Linked DNA regions of Homo sapiens: regions 2, 3 and 4 are each linked to region 1. Evidence: fine-mapped expression QTL. A gene starts in region 1. Each other region holds a variant in brackets. All regions are shown on one strand. Distances are between the middles of the regions. Region 1 holds the start of PPP1R14C (protein phosphatase 1 regulatory inhibitor subunit 14C). Region 2 has its middle 27 kb from the start of PPP1R14C. Region 3 holds the start of RAET1L (retinoic acid early transcript 1L). Region 4 overlaps PPP1R14C (protein phosphatase 1 regulatory inhibitor subunit 14C).

What was found. PIP is the estimated chance that this variant, and not a neighbour inherited with it, causes the effect.
Region 2: its variant is fine-mapped to the expression of PPP1R14C in lung (TOPMed, PIP above 0.99).
Region 3: its variant is fine-mapped to the expression of PPP1R14C in cerebellar hemisphere (GTEx, PIP 0.99).
Region 4: its variant is fine-mapped to the expression of PPP1R14C in esophagus mucosa (GTEx, PIP above 0.99). The same link has a PIP of 0.9 or more in sun-exposed skin and unexposed skin.

What each region holds. Positions count from the first base shown.
Region 1 is chr6:150,139,846-150,144,991 of GRCh38, forward strand. PPP1R14C (protein phosphatase 1 regulatory inhibitor subunit 14C) reads left to right here and starts at 3,199. Exons shown (of 4, transcript NM_030949.3): 1 at 3,199-3,653. The coding sequence starts at 3,348.
Region 2 is chr6:150,113,929-150,119,074 of GRCh38, forward strand. No RefSeq gene overlaps it. Among named protein-coding and RNA genes, the nearest start is that of PPP1R14C, 27 kb to the right of the region's middle. The variant A/G (reference allele first, on the strand shown) is at 2,685.
Region 3 is chr6:150,022,571-150,027,716 of GRCh38, forward strand. It overlaps RAET1L (retinoic acid early transcript 1L), which reads right to left and starts at 2,962. Exons shown (of 5, transcript NM_130900.3): 1 at 2,817-2,962. The coding sequence starts at 2,901. The variant A/G (reference allele first, on the strand shown) is at 3,034.
Region 4 is chr6:150,200,322-150,205,467 of GRCh38, forward strand. All of the region lies in intron 1 of PPP1R14C (protein phosphatase 1 regulatory inhibitor subunit 14C), which reads left to right. Among named protein-coding and RNA genes, the nearest start is that of PPP1R14C, 60 kb to the left of the region's middle. The variant G/C (reference allele first, on the strand shown) is at 2,380.

The DNA of each region.
Region 1 (5,146 bases):
TTTGTCCAATTTGGGAAGCAAGTAAAACATAACCAAGCTAAGAAAACACAAAACTACGAAGAAAAAGATTCAAATGAAACATCCTTAGGCTGCCCTCTCATAGCAGGGAGTAATTGCCTTCAGGTAAAAGTTGATTCCGGACCATTCAATTCACTGAAAGCTATTCACTGTCTTAGATTAACCAGCACCTAAAAACACTTGACTAAATAGGCTAGAAATAAAAATGTTTTCCTTGAATAAATGTATATATTATTGGTTTTGTAGATGAGAAATACCACTGGTTTTGCCGAATTTAAATAGTCAGCTATGTAAAGGGTCTCTGGACTAGGAAAAATTCCTTTATTCCTAAATATTTTGGCTTCAATATTTGAAATCTGCAAAAGCAGTATTTCTATCTGTCAAAATGAGGCCATTAAGTTTTGATTATTCAAACCTGGAATGAAGTGTGTGTGTCTGGGGGTAGAGGAGATGATATGGACTTCACTTTGAATATAAATTACGTACTGGGTGGAGCAAATGGATTTAAAGAAAGAGGAACCCTGGTTCAATTCTATTTGCCAGTCAAGGTGACTCACTTGAACATCTGAAGGCCAGCGTACCTGTGGAAAGAGACTATTTCCTGGATTTTCTTCTGTGAGTCAAGATGCTTAAAACCCATGTCTTTTAGTATCTGTCATTTTGGAGTTGTAAGGGAAAATTGAGTTTTAAGCATAAAGGAAAAAGCATCTTATGCTGTGAGAAAAAAATTGACATCAGAATTTCTCAGAAAGAACTTAGTGAATTTTTTAAAATTATTTGACGTTATCCTTGAATGACTGATTTCGTTGTCCAAAGACTTAAAGAAAGGAGTTGGAATTCCCCAGACTTTGCCAAACTGTGGGATGGCACAATAGGTATTGTCAGGTCCCAGGGCCAGAATGAGGTAGAGATTTTATGTAGTTTCTCCTTTGTTAATAACATTTAAGCTGTTTTCGTTCTGATTTGCATTCTCCTGATTAGTGCAGTTGGTCAAAGCTGGTGCTAGCGGACTTGGCCAGATGTCTGGAGCCATATAAGCTGATTCTGTGTGGGAGATGCTGGGGCTGGTTCCTGCCCTCCTTTCCCTTCCTCCTTGCAGACAGAGTTCCATTTTGAGGTGGTCACTCTCTTGGCTGTGTGTTCGGGGTTTACAGTGACCCACCCTAAAGGCAGAGGGGCAGAGGTGGTGCAGAGACTGGTCATCGGTCTCTAGGGGCAATCAAGGTAATTCATCTCCCTTGTCCCTGATAGGCTCGGTGCAAAACCCATCTTCTAAAGGGCAGCTGGCCTCTTCTAGCGGGGCAGAGATCGTTCAGCTTTGACCCCTTTGTAATTATGGCAGGAGTCCAGGGCCCCACACCAGCCACCCTATTTCAATCTCCGCAGATCCTTCCCCTTCACATTGTGAGGCTTGACATGTCCCTGTGAAGAGCCGCAGGCATGGAACACTTTGGGAAAATCCCTATTCAGGCTCTCACTGGAAAACCCCAGACTGAGGGTACAAAGGCAATGGATCCTAAGCCTGGGTAGAGCAGAGCTGGGCGCTGGTGGATCGCAGAGCCTGAAGCGCCAGGAGAAACCTGCTGGTTACTTTTATTTTGTCTTTGTAGTGTCAGTCTAGAACCCCACACAGGATCTTCTCCATCATAGGAAAGTGTTCCGAGGAATTTGACTTGGTATCTATTTTATCTCTGAGAAACTTCTTTGAGTAGCTGCCAGTAACCTTTAGGGCTCTTTTATTTAAAAACAACAACAACAACAAACAAACAAAAAAAGTTCATGGCCAGGCGCGGTGGCTCACACCTGTAATCCCAGCACTTTGGGAGGCCCAGGCGGGCGGATCATGAGGTCAGGAGTTCGAGACCAGAATGACCAACATGGTGAAACCCTGTCTCTACTAAAAATACAAAAATTAGCTTGGTGTGGTGGCGAAAGCCTGTAATCCCAGCTCTTCAGGAGGGTGAGGCAGGAGAATCGCTTGAACCCCGAAGTCAGAGGTTGCAGTGAGCCGAGATCTCGCCACTGCTCCCCAGCCTGGGCAACAGAGAGACTCCGTCTCAAAAAACAAAACAAAACAAAACCGTTACTAAAAGCCGCTTACTTGTATTCATTCGGACGTCTCTGTGGTTTCTATCAGTTCCTGAACAGGAATGTATTGTTGTGTACAAGAAGAATATGTTAGTGTCTCCCTAATTTTACACATGCAGTTTTCTGTTTACAACTTCCCTCCCCACCTTATTGTCCTAACCCTTCTGAGAAGCTCCTTCATGTGTAACTACTAGGCTGTGATGTTTTGCAGTAGAGTCAGGCAGTGCTGTTGCCCTCCTGGGTGGAAGGGGCTGTTTGGAATGGGATGGAGAGAAAGCTGGCAGTGCACGGGACGCAACACTAGAAATGTGAAACCAGGACCCTGTCGCCGACCCTCTTAGAGAAATGTTTACTGTCTGGATGCCCCCAGACGCCTTGCCTGAGCGCCGTCACGCTTTCTGCCCTTTGGATACGAAGATATCCGAATGCTGTGCCCATGATTAAGCAGACGCTTAGTAAGGAAAGAAAACATTGGTCTGGAAATAATTTCTCAAGCGCCGTGACTGCCTTATTGCACAAACATCGCCTCTTCGATGTTTCTCACAATCCAGAGAGGAAGTGGCATCCATCGTGGCATGAATAGGAATGTGTGTTTGGAGCCGTGGGGCGGGGCTGGAGGGGAGGGGACGCTACCCAGCCAACAGAGGAGACGGTGGGGCTAGGAAAACCTCCTGGGGGAGCCTGCGGCGCGGTCCTTTCCTGTGTCCCCTTCGCTGCGGGTCCTGCCCGGGGCCGCGCCAGGTGGAGGCCCCGAGAGGCGGCGCGTTTCCTGCGCTCCGGGATTGCGGGAGAAGCGTGAGTCCCTGTCTCCGAGACTAGAGGCCACGGACACCCGCGCAGGAGCATCCCCTGGCACCCCGCCCCACGCCCGTCCTTCCGGAGTCTACACATCGGCGACCTCCCGTGTCTAGGCGCACACATTTCCCGCCCCGCGGAGACTCCCACGCCCCGGGCCCTCTCTGCCGCAGGCGCCAGATCCCGCCTCTGGGGGCTGGACCGAGAGGGTCCTCGGCGGCTTCTTTAAGGCTGCGGTCCCCGCCCCGTCGTCCTCCCCGCCCTCCTCCCTCTCGCCGCGGCTCCTCCCGCCCTCCCAGAGCAGCCGGGCGGCTGGGCGCGCGCGGCGCAGAGCAGGTGCCGGGGAGCCCTTCGCATGCGGCTGCCGGGCCGGAGGTGGTAGCGGCGCCGGGCGCGCTCCGCCCGCCCCTCCTCCGGGCCGCACTGAGGCTCGGGCGCGCGGGGACATGTCGGTGGCGACGGGCAGCAGCGAGACGGCCGGCGGGGCCAGCGGCGGCGGCGCACGGGTTTTCTTCCAAAGCCCCCGGGGTGGCGCCGGTGGCAGCCCCGGCTCCAGCAGCGGCTCAGGCTCCTCCCGGGAGGACTCGGCGCCCGTGGCCACGGCGGCCGCTGCAGGGCAGGTTCAGCAGCAACAGCAGCGGCGACACCAGCAGGGAAAAGTGACAGTGAAATACGATCGTAAGGAGCTTCGGAAGCGGCTGGTGCTGGAGGAATGGATCGTGGAGCAGCTGGGTCAGCTCTACGGCTGCGAGGTACCTGGGCGCGGGGCTGGGAGGGTCGGGGACCTCTCTAGCTCCTCTGTGCCCGCGCAGTAATTTTCCCGGGCTCCAGCTCCGGGGCGCGCATGTCCCTGACTCCCGGGGACCAAGTGCCAGGAGCGAGGCGCGGCGCCTTCTCTCCCCCGCGGTGCCCTCTGGCGTCGGGCTCAGCGGTTGGGACGCCCCTGTCTGGGTTCGGCTGCCGGTGCCCGGGGATCTGCGGGCCCCCTTGGTGGCCGTGGGGAGGGTTGGGTCCCGCGGAGCACAGTGCTTTTCTCCGAGCTCCGGGCGCCTCTGGGCTCCAGCTGCAGCTGCGCAAAGCGGGGCTCGGAGGGGCTCACTCCAGCTGCGCCTCAGCAGCGGTTGGGGATACAGCAGCCAAAGAGAGCAGCGCTCACTGCTGGGATCCGGGCAGCCCTGATTTTTGTGGAGAACGAGCAGGGAAGGAAGGAAGCTGCCTCGTGGAAAGGAGAGGTTCTGGGGATCTCAGAGGCCCCCTTGGTTCTTGAAATTCCCCGTGAAAATCCTGAGATGGAACGCTTTCCGCTTTCCAGCCAGCCCCGACGGTGTCTCCATAATTCCGCCCTGCATTATCAGAGCTGCACACGTTGTGCTTTGTTGAAGCCGTAGTTTTTCCTCTCTAAGCTCAGTTACTCCCATTGATGGGCGCAGAATGAGCATCTGGGGCAACCTCGACGGGTGCCTCGGTGGAAGGGCGGGAGCCCTGCGGGGGGCCTGCGGGATCCCGGGATCTGTCAGCTTCAGGCTCCCAGCTCCCCTCTCCTCCACGACATCGTGACTTCCCAAGGTCCAGGGACTAAGGTCATACACAAGTCTCAGGGACGTGTATACATTTGATTTAGGGAGAAATATGTAGAATAAACTGCAGCAAAACGACTGAAGCCAAAATGATCTCTCATGAGCATCTTGAATAACAGTTATTAATTCTAAATGAAGTGACCTCCTCTTAAGGGAGTGGAGTTTGGAAAGGGTGGAAGCATGAAGGGGTTAATAATTAAGAATGTGGCTTCTAAGCTAAAGCTAGGTTTGTGTTCATTCAACTGTTGTGCTCTTCAACAGAGATGACAACCAGATGAACTCACAGGCTTTACCACTAATGTCGGGTGTTCTGTATTTGACACATTTCATGGCCTGTTGTGAAGACACGTTTTCTTAAACACCCTCATTGCACAAGAAAACAGCATACTCGTTACTGACTACTGATAAATGATTATAATATAATGAAGCTTGACTGTATGACTAATGGGGTTGTAAAAATGTGTTGTTTCTCCAGTCCAGCTCTTACAAAAAGCTAATTTAATTGCATAAATAAAAACTGGCAAACATAAGAAGTATTCATGAGATTTTTATAGGAAGTTGGCAAAACTCTGTAAAGAAACATTATTTGATGTAGATGGGATTACTGTTGGATGAGTGGATGTGCTCAGTCCTGCCTCTGTAGAATCCAGTTAATTTTCATTTATTTC
Region 2 (5,146 bases), 26 kb before region 1:
AGCATAATTACTACAATTAATCTTTACAGTTCTAAACAGCACATTTAGAGCTACCTTAATTAGCAGAAATTCTGCGTTGCTTTGCAGGCAAGGAGGATGAAACACACGATGTAAAAGGCTGTAAGGATTCATTCATTTACTCTAGAAGATGTTTCTAAAAAAGCAAATATATGAAGTGTATACAGTAGTCCCCCTTACCTGTGGGGGATACGCTCCAAGATCCCCAGTAGATGCCTGAGACTGCCGATAATACTGGGCTCTATATATACTGTGTTTTTTCCTAAACTGTACACATACACCTATGCACAGTATGGGATTCACAACCACAACTAATAATAAAATAAAACAATGATAACAATATGCTGTAATAAAAGTTACGTGGGCCGGGGGCGGTGGCTCACGCCTGTAATCCCAGCACTTTGGGAGGCCAAGGCAGGCGGATCATGAGGTCAGGAGATCGAAACCATCCTGGCTAACATGGTGAAACCCTGCCTCTACTAAAAACACAAAAACAAAATCAGCCGGGCGTGGTGGCGGGCACCTGTAGTCCCAGCTACTTGGGAGGCTGAGGTGGGAGAATAGGGGTGAACCAGGGAGGCAGAGCTTGCAGTGAGCTGAGATCACACCACTGCACTCCAGCCTGGGCGACAGAGCAAGACTCCTTCTCAAAAAAAAAAAAAAAAAAAAAAAAAATTACGTGAATGTGGCCTCTTTCTTTCTCTCAAAGCCACCTATCATAGGTCATGTTTTTGGATTGTACATGACAGTGGGTAACTAGAAGCACGGAAAGTGAAACTTTGGAACACGGGAACTACTGCACATCTTTCCTGTAAAGTTAAAGAACACAAGTCATCTCAAAAGGAAATCATTTGCTATGAAGATACACAATTTAGAGAGAATGAAAGTGGAAGGATCTACTTGGTTAATGGATTCAGCGTTCAAAACCACACTGGGTTATTTAGGCAAGAAGACATACTTCATCGACTTTGATTGAATCTGCGAGGTACTGTAGTTGCCAAATCTTCACCTGGCTCCTTGTTGCACAGATAGTTTTTGAAAGATATTGTCAATAATTCCAGTTATAAGGACATGCCCAACACCTGTCAGTGTCCACCCGAAACCTCCTAGGGTTAGTCTACTGATGCTCACTTTGTGTGAAAAGGTTAAACGTGGCTAGGTGTCCATTGCCAATGGCCTCAGGTGGTCTGAAGAAATCCTGGTCACTTCTCTAAATCCCAGTGTGTCCGGAATTGGTGGGTTTTCGGTCTCGATGACTTCAAGAATGAAGCCACGGACCCTTGCAGTGAGTGTTACAGTTCTTAAGATGGTGTGTCGGGAGTTGGTTCCTTCTGACATTCAGATGTGTTTGGAGTTTCTTCCTTCTGGTGGGTTCGTGGTCTCGCTGGCTTCAGGAGTGAAGCTGCAGACCTTCGCCGTGAGTGTTACAGCTCATAAAGTTGGTATAGACCCAAAACGTGAACAGCAACAAGATTTTCTGTGAAGAGAAAAAGAACAGTTCCTACACCGTGGAAACGGACCCCCGCAGGTTGCCGACGCTGGCTCAGGTGGAGTGCTTTTATTCTCTTATCCGGCCCCACCCACATCCTACTGATTGGTCCATTTTACAGAGAGCTGATTGGCCCGTTTTACAGAGAGCTGATTGGTCCATTTTGACAGAGTGCTGATTGGTGCATTTACAATCCTTTAGCTAGACACAAAAGTTCTCCAAGTCCCCAACAGATTAGCTAGACACAGAGCGCTGATTGGTGCATTTACAAAACCTTTAGCTAGACACAGAGTGCTGATTGGTGCATTTACAATCCTTTGGCTAGGCAGAAAAGTTCTCTAAGTCCCCACCCAGCCCAGGAGCCCAGCTGGCTTCACCTCTCAATGGCACTCGCCGGGGGACTTCGCAGCACCTAGCCCAGGCACTCCAGCAGCCCAGAGGGAGCTTGTCCCGGATCAAGCCCAGCAGGCGCCGGCCGGCTGAGCCTAGTGAGGGAGCCCCGTGAGCCCGTGCCAGCCCGGAACCCGCACCAGCCTGCAAGCGCCACGCTCAGCCCCGGCTGGCTTCGGCGCCTCCCGCTCCACACCTCCCTGAGAGCAGAGGGAGCCTGTTCCGGCCTTGGCCAGCCCCAGAGAGGGGCCCCCACAGTGCAGCGACGGCTGAAGGGCTCCTCAAGCGCGGCCAGAGTGGACGCTGAGGCCGAGGAGGCACCAAGAGTGAGCGAGGGCTGCTAGCACGTTGTCACTTCTTACCAGGGGCTAATGGACACAAGAGGATGCCAGTCCTTTGAGCCTCCTTGGAAGCTGAGTTCCTCTCTGAGGGTCAACAGTCAACACCGGGCCTGCCTGGGCCTGGACTTCTCTGGCCTAACGTCCTATCCACAAAGTCAGGCTTTGTGGATAGAGTTCAGCCCCTGGGCCTGGGCAGGGCCAGCTGTGTGCTCCCCCAGCTCCTGCCTCGCTTCTCTGGCTCCCCAGGGCTGGCCTGCTCAGACTGGCCCCAGTTCTGGGAAGGAATGGTGCCAACTGCCTTCCCCATTCATGGTGTCAATAAGGGGCTTTACAAAGTTGTCCCTCACCCCCACCCCCTACCTCAACAAGAGCTATTGTGTTATTGAAAGTGCCGAGGGCATTTCCTGGGAACATGGAATTCATCAAACAGAAACTTACAATGAGAG[A/G]AATGAACAAATTCTACAAGTGTTTGCTCCTCTCGGGCTCCCAGGAGGCCAATCCCACAAACGCCTTTGGGAGGCAAACCTCATGGGGCTGCCCGGGCAGGAAACCAATCTGTGCTTCTTCCCTTGAAAGATGCTGGGGCCTGCCCCAAAAGGTGGCTCTGAGTCACAACCAGGAGCCACCGGGAGCATCTGGGGGGACTGCTGTTTTTCTCCAGCGGCCCCAAAGGCCATCCAGGAGTTCTCCATTGAGACCTGGACGTCAAGGGGAAGCCTTGGGTGGAACTGCGAGCGGGTGGCCTTGTCTTTACTGGTCTTTTTCCGTTGAGGCTTCTCTCCCAGCACATCCTTTCTAGGGTCTCTGGTCTACTGTTCTCACCACCCTTGTTCAACCGACCACCCCCTTCTCACCACTGGCCCCCAACTATATTTATTTATTTATTTATTTATTTATTTATTTATTTTGGAGATGGAGTCTCATTCTGTCGCCCAGGCTGGAGTGCAGTGGTGCAATCACGGCTCACTGCAAGCTCCGCCTTCCGGGTTCACGCCATTCGCCTACCTCAGCCTCCCGGGTAGCTGGGACTACAGGCGCCCGCCACCGCGCCCAGCTAATTTTTTGTATTTTTAGTAGAGACGGGGTTTCACCGTGGTCTGGATCACCTGACCTCGTGATCCGCCTGCCTCGGCCTCCCAAAGTGCTGGGATTACAGGCGTGAGCCACCTCGCCCGGCCTTCGCCCCCAACTATTCAGGACACCTGGCTACATCTGATGCCAGCTTCCCCTCCACCCTGTCAAGACGCTCCACGCTCCGCCTTCTCACCTCCTCCAGCCGTCATCTGCTGAGACCCTGCCTATCCACGTGGCAATCAGAGGGACCGCCACACCCCCAAGGCCTCTGCCACTCTTGAGGGACACACATCTTAACAGTGGCTCCATGCACCTGTGAAACCCAGTAGGGCCTATAGGGGAGGAAGCACAGCCTCGTGGCGGGGGAAGGAGTTCAGGATGCGCCACCCCAAAATATGCTGCTATTCACTCAAAATTAACTATTTTAAGTTAAAAACACTGGAAAAAAGCAGGTGTGGGAAGGGCACTCTGATCTTTTTTTGTTTGTTTTCAGAAGCAGGGGATAAAATACCCATATAAAATGTGACCACTGGGCAGGCGTGGTGGCTCACACCTGTAATCCCAGCACTTTGGGAGGCCAAGGCAGGTGGATCACCTGAGGTCAGGAGTTCGAGATCAGCCTGGCCAACGTGGTGAAACCCTGTCTCTACTAAAAATATAAAAAATTAGCCAGGCATGGTGGCGGGTGCCTGTAGTCCCAGCTACTGGGGAGGTTGAGGCAGGAGAATCGCTTGAGCCCGGAAGGCAGAGGTTGCAGTGAGCTGATATCACACCATTGCACTCCAGCCTGGGCGACAACAGCGAAACTCCGTCTCCAAAAAACAAAACAAAAAAAGTGACCATCTTGTACCAGCAAAGAGAAACATTCTTTTCAGCAGAGAACGGAAGTTGAGGCTGAGAGAAATCTGCACAAACAGATCTTGTTAAAATAACCGTTATTGTTCTTTAGTCTCCCATATATTTCAGTTACTTTTCTGCAATTGTTATTCTTTGTCCAATGTAATATGTAAGCACATAGGTTTAGCCGCTTCTTTGGGTCTTCATCTTTCTTGTGAGGGCTTCCACTGCACACAAATCAAATTTGTGTGCTTTTGTCCAGCTAATCTGTCTTATGTCAGTCCCAGCTGGAAGCCCTCAGACAGCAGAAGGACATTTTCCTCCCTTACAAGTGAATGTCCTCGTGGGCGGGCTGCCGGGAATGACACCTGGAGACAGCGTAGGTGCTGCAGAGGGTAAACTGCAGCTCACGACTACATAGGGCTCACACCCATCCATTGTTTTGCTTGCACAGTCTCTTTTAAAAATTTTATTTAGTTGTCAACATTTAAAAGTTTTTTCACATTAAAATCTGAATTTTCATGGAAACCTGGAAAGCTGGCAGCGTGGGATCTGAGTAGTTCTTGGTGGAAGTGAAGAATGTGCCTGTGTTTAACATGCGCACGCGTCTGCTTCACTCCCTGCCTGGGGGCCCTGCGGGCACAGCCTGGGGAAGGCAGTGCTGGCATAGACAAGGGGCTGCCAGGCAACTGGGGCCTGGTGCAAGTTCAGAGGAGGCCAGAGTCTAGATTCTCTGCTCAGAACCTGCATGCCTGGAATCAAAAGAAAGTGACAAATCGCACCTGAGTAAATATAGTTTCACAATGAAGCGCATGTCAACACTTCAATGCAGAGGCTGTATCACTCAGGAAGCTCTTCAGGGAGCAAGGGACAGTCAGTGCGGGGAGTGGGAGGCTGGAGTTGAGGGCCGGCCTCACAGGCCTGCGTGGAATGGTCTGCTGATGCTGTCTCAAACTCACTGATACTTTGCCAATGAGGGTCATTTTGCACTGTGTAC
Region 3 (5,146 bases), 120 kb before region 1:
ATGGCAGAGGATCTTCAGCAGTAGCCCACGTGGACTGCGGGAGGTGGGAGAGGGTGTGGGTCCACCCCTGTGGATGCTGGTGCTGGTTGAACAGAGTGAGGATGGAACCCCGTTGGATAAAGAAGAGTTAATTATCATGGTCACAGGATGTAACATGTTGGCAAAGCCCCTGGTGATGGCATGCATCTGCTATGAGGAGGCCTTCCTGAAACCTTGGACAAAGAGATGGTCCACACAGCAAGAAATGGAAAATCTGAAAGTCTAAGGCAGGTAGTGGAGGGAGAGATCACAGGCTCAGAGAAGTGCCCATGCCAGAGGGGTCTAAGTGTGAAAATCCAGAACAATGTCCATCCACTGTGCTTATGGGAAACCTGGAGGACTCCTGTTTACCCAGCATATAAAGAAGGCCCCATGAGAAGGCACCAGAATGGAATGAAGCTTAGGGATGCCTATTGCTGAAGGCCAGGGTTGGGGGTAGGAGATGCTGTTCCTGAAATCTGCTCCCAGAGTAATGGGATGAACAATTCTGAAATTCCAAATTCCAGGTGGAGGCTGTCAACTGTCAGGAGCAAGGAGGGTGCAATGATGGAAATGATTAGAGAAGTCACAATGCCAGCTGGGGACCTCAGTTATACAAAGTTATGCCCATGGCTCATAGAACAAAGGGGTCCAAAGTCCAAAAGAGATGGAAACCCACCCCGGATACTGCTGGATTTAAATAATTACAAGAAACAGAGATAAACCAAATCAGGAGGCTGAAAGTAGCCAGTCCATCAAGAACGAGGCTGCTTTGCCTAATTTGCAGAATGAAGCCACTTCTCAGACCCTGAACCCATGACTATAAGAAGACACCAGTTTCTAGTGAGGAAGGACCCTTTAACCCTGCAGCCAGGACAGTGAGTCCTTGTGGCCTTCTCCAGAGATATTTATGGCCAATAGAGTTTGCTGTGAAGGGCAATTTTGTAAACATGTAAAGGTGTTCAGGGAATATATTCTCCATTGTAACTACTCAACTCTGCTGTTGAAGCTCAAAAGCAGCCATAGACAATCCATGAATGATGAGCGAGGCTGGACCTACCTTAAGTGCCCAATGACCCAAGACCCCCTAAGATCCTAGAGGTACATGTGGTCACAATGTCTAATTGGAGAATCACAACAGAGATTCCATGTGAATATTCAGAGACAAGGCAATGCCACTCACAGCAAGGAAATCGCAACATTAAGCAGTGGCTCCTGTAGAGTACTGCACCTTGGCAGAGATGGGGCCTTTTGCCATGCATATAAAGAAGGCCCCATGACAAGGCACCAGAATGGAATGAAGCTTAGGGATGCCTATTCCTGAAGGCCTCAGAGCTGCCCATTACTGGTGGGCTCCTCGCCCTCTAGGTCATTAGGAAGATAGGCCCAGCAGTGAGAAGATGCAGGTGGTTCTTCTGGGATGGGCAGGAGCAGGGCCACCGGGAACCAAGAAGTTGCACAAGCAGTTGGACCTGATCCCCAGGACACCACGTGGCTGCACCCACTCACCCTCAGCTCACACCTGAGGCTTCAGGGAGGGTACCTGATGGTCCCCATGGATGCCACTCAGCACAAAGGAGGGGAGAATAAGCCCCCAACTATGGGACCCCCACTCCCATCACATCCACACCACCCAGAAGCCACAGGCAAGGTAGGGCCACCTTCTACTTTCCAACTGACATCAGAGACATCACTTGGAGATGACACCCTAGGGGATGGGGCACTGGGACACTGTAATCCCCTGATCTGGGATCAGCAACCTAGGACAGGGTCCAAATCTGGTCCCCCCTCTTTGAAGGTTGCCATTGCCTGCTGTTGCTCTACAAAGGGACAGGACTGGACACAGAGACGGAGAACCCATGGCCTGCAAAGATCACAGGGCATCCTTCCTCCCTTTCTAGAAAGGGTTTGCTGACCCCTGTCTACACAGTGACTATTCTCTATGACGCTGACACCCCCGTAGGAAGAACAGGCGGTCTGGGCCCCAAGGGCAGAAGTGGGTGCCTCTACTCACCAGAGTTCCCAGGGTCATCCTGGAGGAAATGGTGCTTCCCATCCCCCCTGCACAGGTTCTGAGGGGAGCTTGGGGTGTGTTTGTTGGGGTGTGTCCTCAGGCAAGAGGCAGAAGGTGCGACGTGGTGTAGGAGGTGGTGAGGTACCCTTCATGGATGGGGAGACCTCAGGGGTGACCAGCTGGGCTGAGGTGGGCAGTAAGAGGATGTGACCTGGGTGGTGGCAGTGGATGGTGAGGGGAGGGGTGGCGGGTATCTGCTGAGCCCCTGGGTGCAGGTGAGTGTCTACAGGAAAAGTGCGGGGAAAACAAAGGCAGGGAGTCCTGGGGGTGCTGGAGGGTTTGTGTGGTAGAGAGCAGGTGAGAGCAGAGCAGGCTTGTGGCTGGTGGGGGCGTCTGTGATTGTATCCCTGTGGTACCCCCCTTCACCCAGTCCTGACCCCAGCTCTGTTCCCGGGGGGGCTCTGGTTTCTCCTTCCGAAAGGCGGGTGGGACTGCCGGGCTGCACTAGGAATCCGGGCCCCACCTAGCCCTCGCAGCCCTCTGGCCCCTCCACCCTCCTGCCAGCCTCGTTTTCACCCTGCTCTTTTTCGCCCCTACTGGGGCAAGAACAGCCTTGGGGAGTGGACCCGGCGGGAAGGAGCCCAGGAGGGGAACTGAGCTGGGGGCGCAGTTCGGGGAGATCTCCCTTGTCCTTCCAGAAGCCTTCCCTCCTCTGAAACCCGCTGCAGTCCACAGTCCCTCAGGTTTGGCCCCCGCCCCGCTTAGGCTCCATCCACCAGCTCACCGTCTCGCCTAGCCCGGGACCAGCCGAACAGCAGGAACAGAAGCGGGAGGCACAGAAGCAAAGCTGGGATGGCGGCTGCTGCCATTGGGGACCAGGAGGGCTGGGGACAAGAGATTTAATCAAGGTGGATCCTGGAAGATGAAATCACCTCTGTGCTGAAAGGCTGGCTTATATACTGTTAGTTACTGGGGAATGTACCGGGGAATGAGTCACCTCG[A/G]TTCTGAAAAGCCAGATTTTAATGCTACTGGGCGTAGTCACTGGGCGCGTTCCACCTCTTCGTTTCATTGTCTGGACGAAATCCAGTTTCCATGCTAGTGTCCCTTCCCTTCTTCACCCGCTCCGGCAGCTTGGTGGCCTCGTGCCCGGGCCCCACTCCTGCCAGGACACGATTCCTTCCACGACAGACTCATTTAATCATTATAGCATTTTTTATTAATGGTGAAGAAACGTGCAGAGGAATATTCAGCGGCCTCGGCGTCTCCTTGTCCCCGCCTGGGTCCGCGGCACTCTCCCTCCTTCCGCTTGCGCCGCGGGGTCCCTGGCTCACCCCGCCCTGGGCACAGCCATGGGCCTGTTCGCGTCCCCTCCACTACTTCCCCAGTCCCCGGTGGGCGTGGTTACAGTCCGGGCTGGGTTTTATTTTTTATTTCTTTATCTATTTATGTATTTGGAGATGGGGTTTCTCTCTTATTGCACAGGCTGGAGTGCAACGGCCCGATGTCGGCTCGCCGCAGCCTTGTCTCCTGGGTTCAAGCGATTCTCTTGCCTCAGCTTCTGGAGTAGCTGGGATTACGGGTGCCCACCACCAAGCCCGGCGAATTGTTTGTAGTTTTGGTAGAGATGGGGTTTCACCTTGTTGGCCAGGCTGGTCTCAAACTCCTTTCCTCAGGTGATCCACCCACCTCGGCCTCCCAAAGTGCTGGGATTACAGGCATGAGTCAGCGTGCCCGGCCTGGGCTAGGTTTTATTACAGAAACAGCAGGTAGGGTTTCAGAGGTTCAAAACAACATATTGTATAGTAAACAATTGGTGAAGATGGTAAATTCTATGTTCTATGTTTTTACCAAAATTAAGCAGCTTTAAAAATTATCTTAACAATTTATGTCTTGCTTCTGCTTCACCCAGTGCAGACTGGCCAAAAGGCTGCTCATTAAAATCGAGGACAGCATTGAGGACCTCATCCCTAGAATCTCAACCTGTGACACGCTTGCTGATTTAGAAAGCTCCTCAGAGAGATTACCTCTGAGCTCCCAGTTCAGCAGCCGCCCTGGCCCAGGTCCACCGATGGCACAGGGGGCTCAGCAGAGCAGGTTCAACTGAAAGTTCCTAGTGGTTCCCAACTGTCAGCGCATTCTGCTGGCCTCTTCCCCCTGGGCAAAGAGCCAGCCATCCTTCAAAGCCGGGCACAAATACCCCCTCCCATGTGTGTCCTGCATGTTCCCACAATACAGAACACCCTCCTGCTCCCTGAGACCTGGGTTCACAGTGGGTGCATCCAGATCTCCCTGTGTGACAATTGCTCACACATTTCTTTGCCTCTCTGCTAGAAGCATGAGGTCTTTGAGAATATACTACATCCCTTCCTAAAAAGACCTAGTGAACAACTTGCTCAATCATGTAATCAATTGTGTTTCCACGAAGAGCAGGAGCCGAGGGAGGAGTCTACACACGTGTGGGGTTCACTTTCCAGCACACCAATCCGTGGCCAACCACACCTGAATCCATGGCTGCACCCACACCTCTGCTCAGCCCCTAGATGGTCACTGGACTCATTATCAAAGGGGCAACCCCAAGTGCCCCCTTGTCTTAGTCACCATGAAGGCATCTAGACCTGTGGGCAGAAGGCAGAGGGAGGTGGGGGGCCCAGCGATCCCTGGCTGTTGGGATAAGGAATGGGCAGAGCCCCTGAGTCCCACACTGCCCCCAGCCACTCAGCCTTCTCCCTATTAAATGAGTAAAATAGACACAGACCTTCTTCTCCACACAGTTGTCATGTGGGGAGGATGCACACCTGGTGACCAGCAATCCCCAGAGCCCTGAGGCTGCGGGAAAGGGGAGGAGGCCTAGACCAAGCCCAGGGACTGTCTCTGCTTCTGCACAGGGGGATGGGATAGCAGCCCCTCTGTGACTGTGCAGGGACACAGGAGCCTAGAAGTTTCTGGCCTGATGCACTAGAGCCTCTGTCCAGGAGGGGCCATGTGGAGGGTGGTCTGGAGGACAACAGACACACGGGGGTGGGCAGTTCTCAGATCTGAGAGGGGCAGAGCTTGGCAGGTCCAGGGATCTGTGTGTGAGAAGTGCCTCCCATGCATAGGGCTGGGAACAGGAGC
Region 4 (5,146 bases), 60 kb after region 1:
GAGATTGGCAGTAGTCTCGGCTACCCCTCATGGTGCCGGGGTCCGAATTACTCGCCTCTCTGGGACAGCTCCCTTTTCTCCCTCCCTTGTGATCTTGCATCCAACCCTTCCTTAACCAAGTCTGCAGACTTAGGTTTGTCCTCACCCTAAGGTGAACCAGCCAGCTCCTGTTCTCAGTCTGGGGAGTGCTCCTTTTCCACTGCTGAGCAGAGACTGGAGCAGGAGACACAGTGATGCGTCTCATGGCCCTGCCCCTGGCTCTCTTCCCTTTGGACACACCCCTAGGTGCAGCTGTGGCCTCCTCTGTAACAGGTCTGCAGAAGAGCAAGATTAGAAGCAGCCATATCCCCTACATTTGTAACAGGAGAGGCCCAGACCTCCAGCTGGGGGATTAACATGTTCTCCAGAAATGGCTAGTTACTCCCAAACTTGCTTCTTTCCTCCAAGTCTTCACTGAGAGCCTGAATCCATTCATATCTGCCTCACAAGGAGTGTGGTCCCCTGAGTGTGTGAAAGCTGTCGTCATCCTCTAAGTTTCCATGGAGTTTCCTGGGCTCCAGCTGGCTGTGGATACCAGGGCTTGAATGTGTTGGGTGCCTGGAGCCGCATGTCTGAAGGGCTCTGCTCTCCTCCCTTGCTGCTCCAAAAGTCACGGAAGTCAAAAGGGAGAAATCATTCCCCAGCCATGCTGCATCCTGAAAGGCACATAGCACAAGTTGTAGGGGCCATACATTTTGAGGTCAGATTGTCCAGGTTTGGAACTAAGGAAGCGATCGGCCCTATTGGGCAGGATACTCAGACATTCCATCTGTAAATAGAGATGATGATAATACTCACCTCAGGGAATTGTTTGTTATTTTATTTACAAAATGATTATCGGGGTCATGTGTCAGGCGCTATCCCAGGCACTGCTCTTGGTCCTCCAGTATGGGGAGGCAGACTGAGAAATGTGAATTGGAAGAGTGTGGAAAGTGCAGCGAAAGAGAGGTGCAGGGCATTCTAAGTTTCCAGGGCTGGGAGGTTGACCTCATCACAAGTCTGGCGAAGACATTTTGCTTTAGGAAGTGATGGCTGACACGAGATAACAAGAAGAGTGTCCTACACATGCACCCAGCACGTGCAAAGGCCCTGTGGAGGCCTGGCTGGGGAGTGTCCTGAGGGATCGGAGGAGACCAGCGGAGTTAGAGCTCAGGGAGTTGGGGTGAGGCATTGAATGGAGAGGAGGCCGGGAGCCCAGCAGGGGAAGCCTTCCAGGCAGAGGTAAGACTGTTGGTCCTAAGACTGGTAGGAAGCCACCCGTGAGTTCTAAGCTGGTGAATGACAGATCTGTGTTCTTAAAGTTGCTACTCTGGCTACAGAGTGGAAACTGGGATGGCGGAGGCATGAGGGTGAGTTTATGGAAGCCAGTTAAGAGGCTCCTGCTATAGCTTATGCAAAAGATGATTTAGCTTTCACTAGGGGGGCAGTGGAGGTGGTACAAAGTGCAGGTTCAGGAGACGGTAAGCCATAGAATTGACAGTTATGGTGATGGATTGGATGGTGGCGACAGGGAGAGGAGGGGTCAGGAGTGAAGTATTCCATGAACCGTCACATTGCCTGCATAAACATGCATTACAGGTAAACGATTATGGTAATAATTTACAAAGAAGCATGCCCTTTGCTCTGCTCATTTCACAAGGCAGCTCTGGTTAAATGACTTTTTATTTTGGACTGGCCTCATTCCCTAAGACCAAAGGCAGCTGAGCCTGTGTGCCCCGGGGGCCTGCCCTCTGACCCTGGTGTAGCCTTGCATCAAGCGTGAGCTCCTCTCTCGCCTCTCTGCTGTGTGGTGTGAGGAAGGTAGTGCAAGGAATGTTCTAGCAAGTTTCTCATCCTCATGCAGAACATCCCTGGTGGGTGCCCACCCCACAACAAGGCTTGCCAGCCTTGAGTCTCTGTTAATCTCTGTGTCCCTCCCCTGTACCCCCACTCTGTCACGCAGGCTGGGTCCCACGGAAGAGGCACTGCCTGGCTCCGGCTGGCTTTTCCCAGATCAAGCCCACACCTCCTTGCCTCAGGCTGTCCTGGTGTCTGGCTTTGCTTCTCCCTCTCTCATTGGCACCCTTGCTGTTCTTAGGTTTGTCCCTTTCTCATTGGCACCCTTGCCGTTCTTAGGTTTGGGGCAGGCCCGTGTCTTGTCAGCAGCAACCCTGGCTCCTCTCAACCAGGAGCTGGAGTCCCCATTGGGCAGAAGAAGCTTCGGCCGACTTTGCCGCTCCTTTGCCGCCGGGACAGCCCTGCAGGCTCTTCTCTGGGAGGGTCCCCATGGTGCCCTCCCACACAGCCTGGCCTGGTCTCAGGGCTGAAGCTGAGGACCTGGGTGTGCCTCAGTTGGCTGAA[G/C]GTCATTGTATGACTCACACCTGGACCTTTTGCCCAGCCCTCGGCTGTAAGAAGAACCAGCAGAGCCAGTCACAGGAAGGCCTGGCCCTCACCTTCCTGGGTTCAGCCACCACCAACACATTAGTCTTGGTCTTTTGTTTTGTTTTGTTTTAATTTAATCACTTAATTTTTTAAAAGCATTTTAGATTTACAGAAAAATTGAGCCAAAAACACAGAGAATTCTCATCTACCCCTTTCTTTCTCCTCCCTCCAGTCCGGTTGTCCTTTTTCTTAACATCTTGCATTAGTGTTGTATCTTGGTTACAATTGCTGAGACAATCTTGCTACATTATTATTAGCTAAAGCTCATCATTTCCATTCAGACTCACTCTTTGTGTTGTACATCCTGTGGGTTCTGGGGTTGTGTGTCATTTTCCTCTAATTGGGTTTTGGCAAATGTGTGATGATATAGATGCACCCTTATAAGATCACACAGGTTTTCTGGCCTGAAAATTGCCCTGTGCTCTGCCTTAGTCATCTCTCTTTCCTCATTGGCCCCTGGCAATCCCTGATGGTTTTACTATCTCCATATTTTAGTCTTTTCCAGAACGTCCTGTAGTTGGAATCATGCGTATGGCAACTTTCCATTTTGGCTTCATTCACTTATGGATCTGCATTTAAGGTCCTTCGTGTCTTTTCATGCTTGATGGCCCATATCAGCAATGGTCTTTTATACTCCAAGTGCAGTGTGTCTGCTCACCGGCTGGAGGCCTTGCGATGGGATTCACAATTTCCTCTCAGTGTCTTCCAAGCGGCTTTTCCGTATCATCTTCTCAGGCTTCTGTGCACCTGCCCGTACTGGACATATTTGGCCATTGCTGATCTAGGAGCCTTCCCGAGGCAGGAGGTGAAACGGTCTGGATTTCGTGTTCTGTGTTAGGAAATCTAACACTGCAGCAACCCCGAATGCCTCAGTCATGAGCAGTTGATAGTGCAGGGGAACCGTCTTCTCTCCAAGAATTGGCTAGAACGGGCTTCTGCCCACTGCTTTTATTCCATCATCGGGTAATTTGAGTGTTTCCAGTCTAAGAGAATTCTGCTTGGCCCTAAGCCTTTCCACTGCAAATCTGGATGTGGACCATCTTCTATCAGAGACAGCTCAGGCTCAATCCCTAAATTAATGGCAAGCAAGACGTAGACAGGTGTGACTTCTTAGAGACAGGCTGGACTGCTGCTGCTCTGTCCTTGGGTGGCGCCAGCCCTTCCTTTATTCTTTCCCAGTCTTCTTATCCATTGCCTGTAGCCCAGGACCAGTGCCAAGCCTGTAGCTTCCGCATGGTGTTCCTCTCCCTTCCGGGGATCTTCATGTAGGTGCTGCACGGAGAAAGAAGGGCCCTGAGAAGAGAGGCTGCTGTCGGCACAGGAGCCGTGAGGGTGGCGGCCGCCTGGCCACTGTGTCCAGTGCTTTCAAGGTGTTCTCAGTGTCCTCGTTTATGCCACGGCTTAGAAGATTGTCCTTGCCATCTTTAGCAACTGTCTCAGCCGTCACTTATTTTCACTCGTCTTACGAGGACCAACCTGCCGACTTTCTCGTCACGGGGGCATTGTTAACAACCAGCTGTGCGTGTTTAGTGTTCATAAGCAGAGCAAAGTGTGATTGTCTCCAGGAAGCTCTGCATCTGGGTTTTTTTGCTGACATTTTCTTTTCTTTTTTTCTCTTTGAATGCTGTGGTTTTGAACAAATCGGTAATGTGATAAGTCTTCACTTAACGATTTTCAGGCATCAGGAGTACACGATTCCCTGGAAGAGACATTTACATGGAATATTTATTTATTTGAAGAGGAATCGGATGTGCCCAGTCAACTTAGCACCCACTGAGGTCCTGTCACCATTTGTTGAGTTTGCACAACGTGCGTGGGCATGATTGTGCCCGATTTCTATCCAGCCCCGAGAATTAGCTAGCAGTCCCCATTTTACAGGTGTGGGAACTAAGGGTTAGGGGATGCGTTACCCTGCCCCAGCTCTCACGGGTTGTCAGAGGCAGAGATGAAACTGAAACCTGGGTCTGCTTCTCTCCAAACTCCATGCTCTGGGCACAACACCACTTGGCCCCTACCCAAGGGACCGACTCTGTGCTGAGAAGCAGGGCAGCCTGGGGCATACACGGGAAGTCGGAGGCTTCAGTCGCTTTCTTCCCATGCTGTGCTCTGTTCACCAGACTCCCTAGGGTCCTCCCATTGCAGGAGGAAGTGGCCTCTTGAGCCCTTTGAGATCAAGGCTGGGCATAGAACACAACCTCTGCTCCAACTCAGAGTCTTTTTTTTTTTTTTGTTAAACTGTGTCTGGAGCACTTTGATAATCTCTCCAGAGATAGTCATTTTTGCTAAAATGAATTGCTAAATGTAGGGGAGAGATTTGGGGGCACGAACTAAGCCTGCCCTGGGTGCCAGTGATACTGGCAACTTCCCTGGTGGGTGGGAAAGAGAAACCTGCCTGGTGGGTGGGTTCAGGACCTAGAAAAGACCTCCTCAGCCTAGTTCCTTGTTGCTTTGCCGCCGCCCCCAGGCAGTTCAGCCTGGGCTTAGTCAGTGTCTAGCAGCCTCACTGAACTTCTGGGACCAACAGCCCCTGGGTACTTCTCTTACCACCTGGTCTGCATCGTCAGTGGCTCACACACCCATCACACTGGCCTGCTGCTGCTGTTGCATAGGTGTGAGCTTGGTACTTGTGATCTTGCAAAGTGCTAAATGGCTCACCCAACTACAGTACCTGATGGAGCTCTTGAGA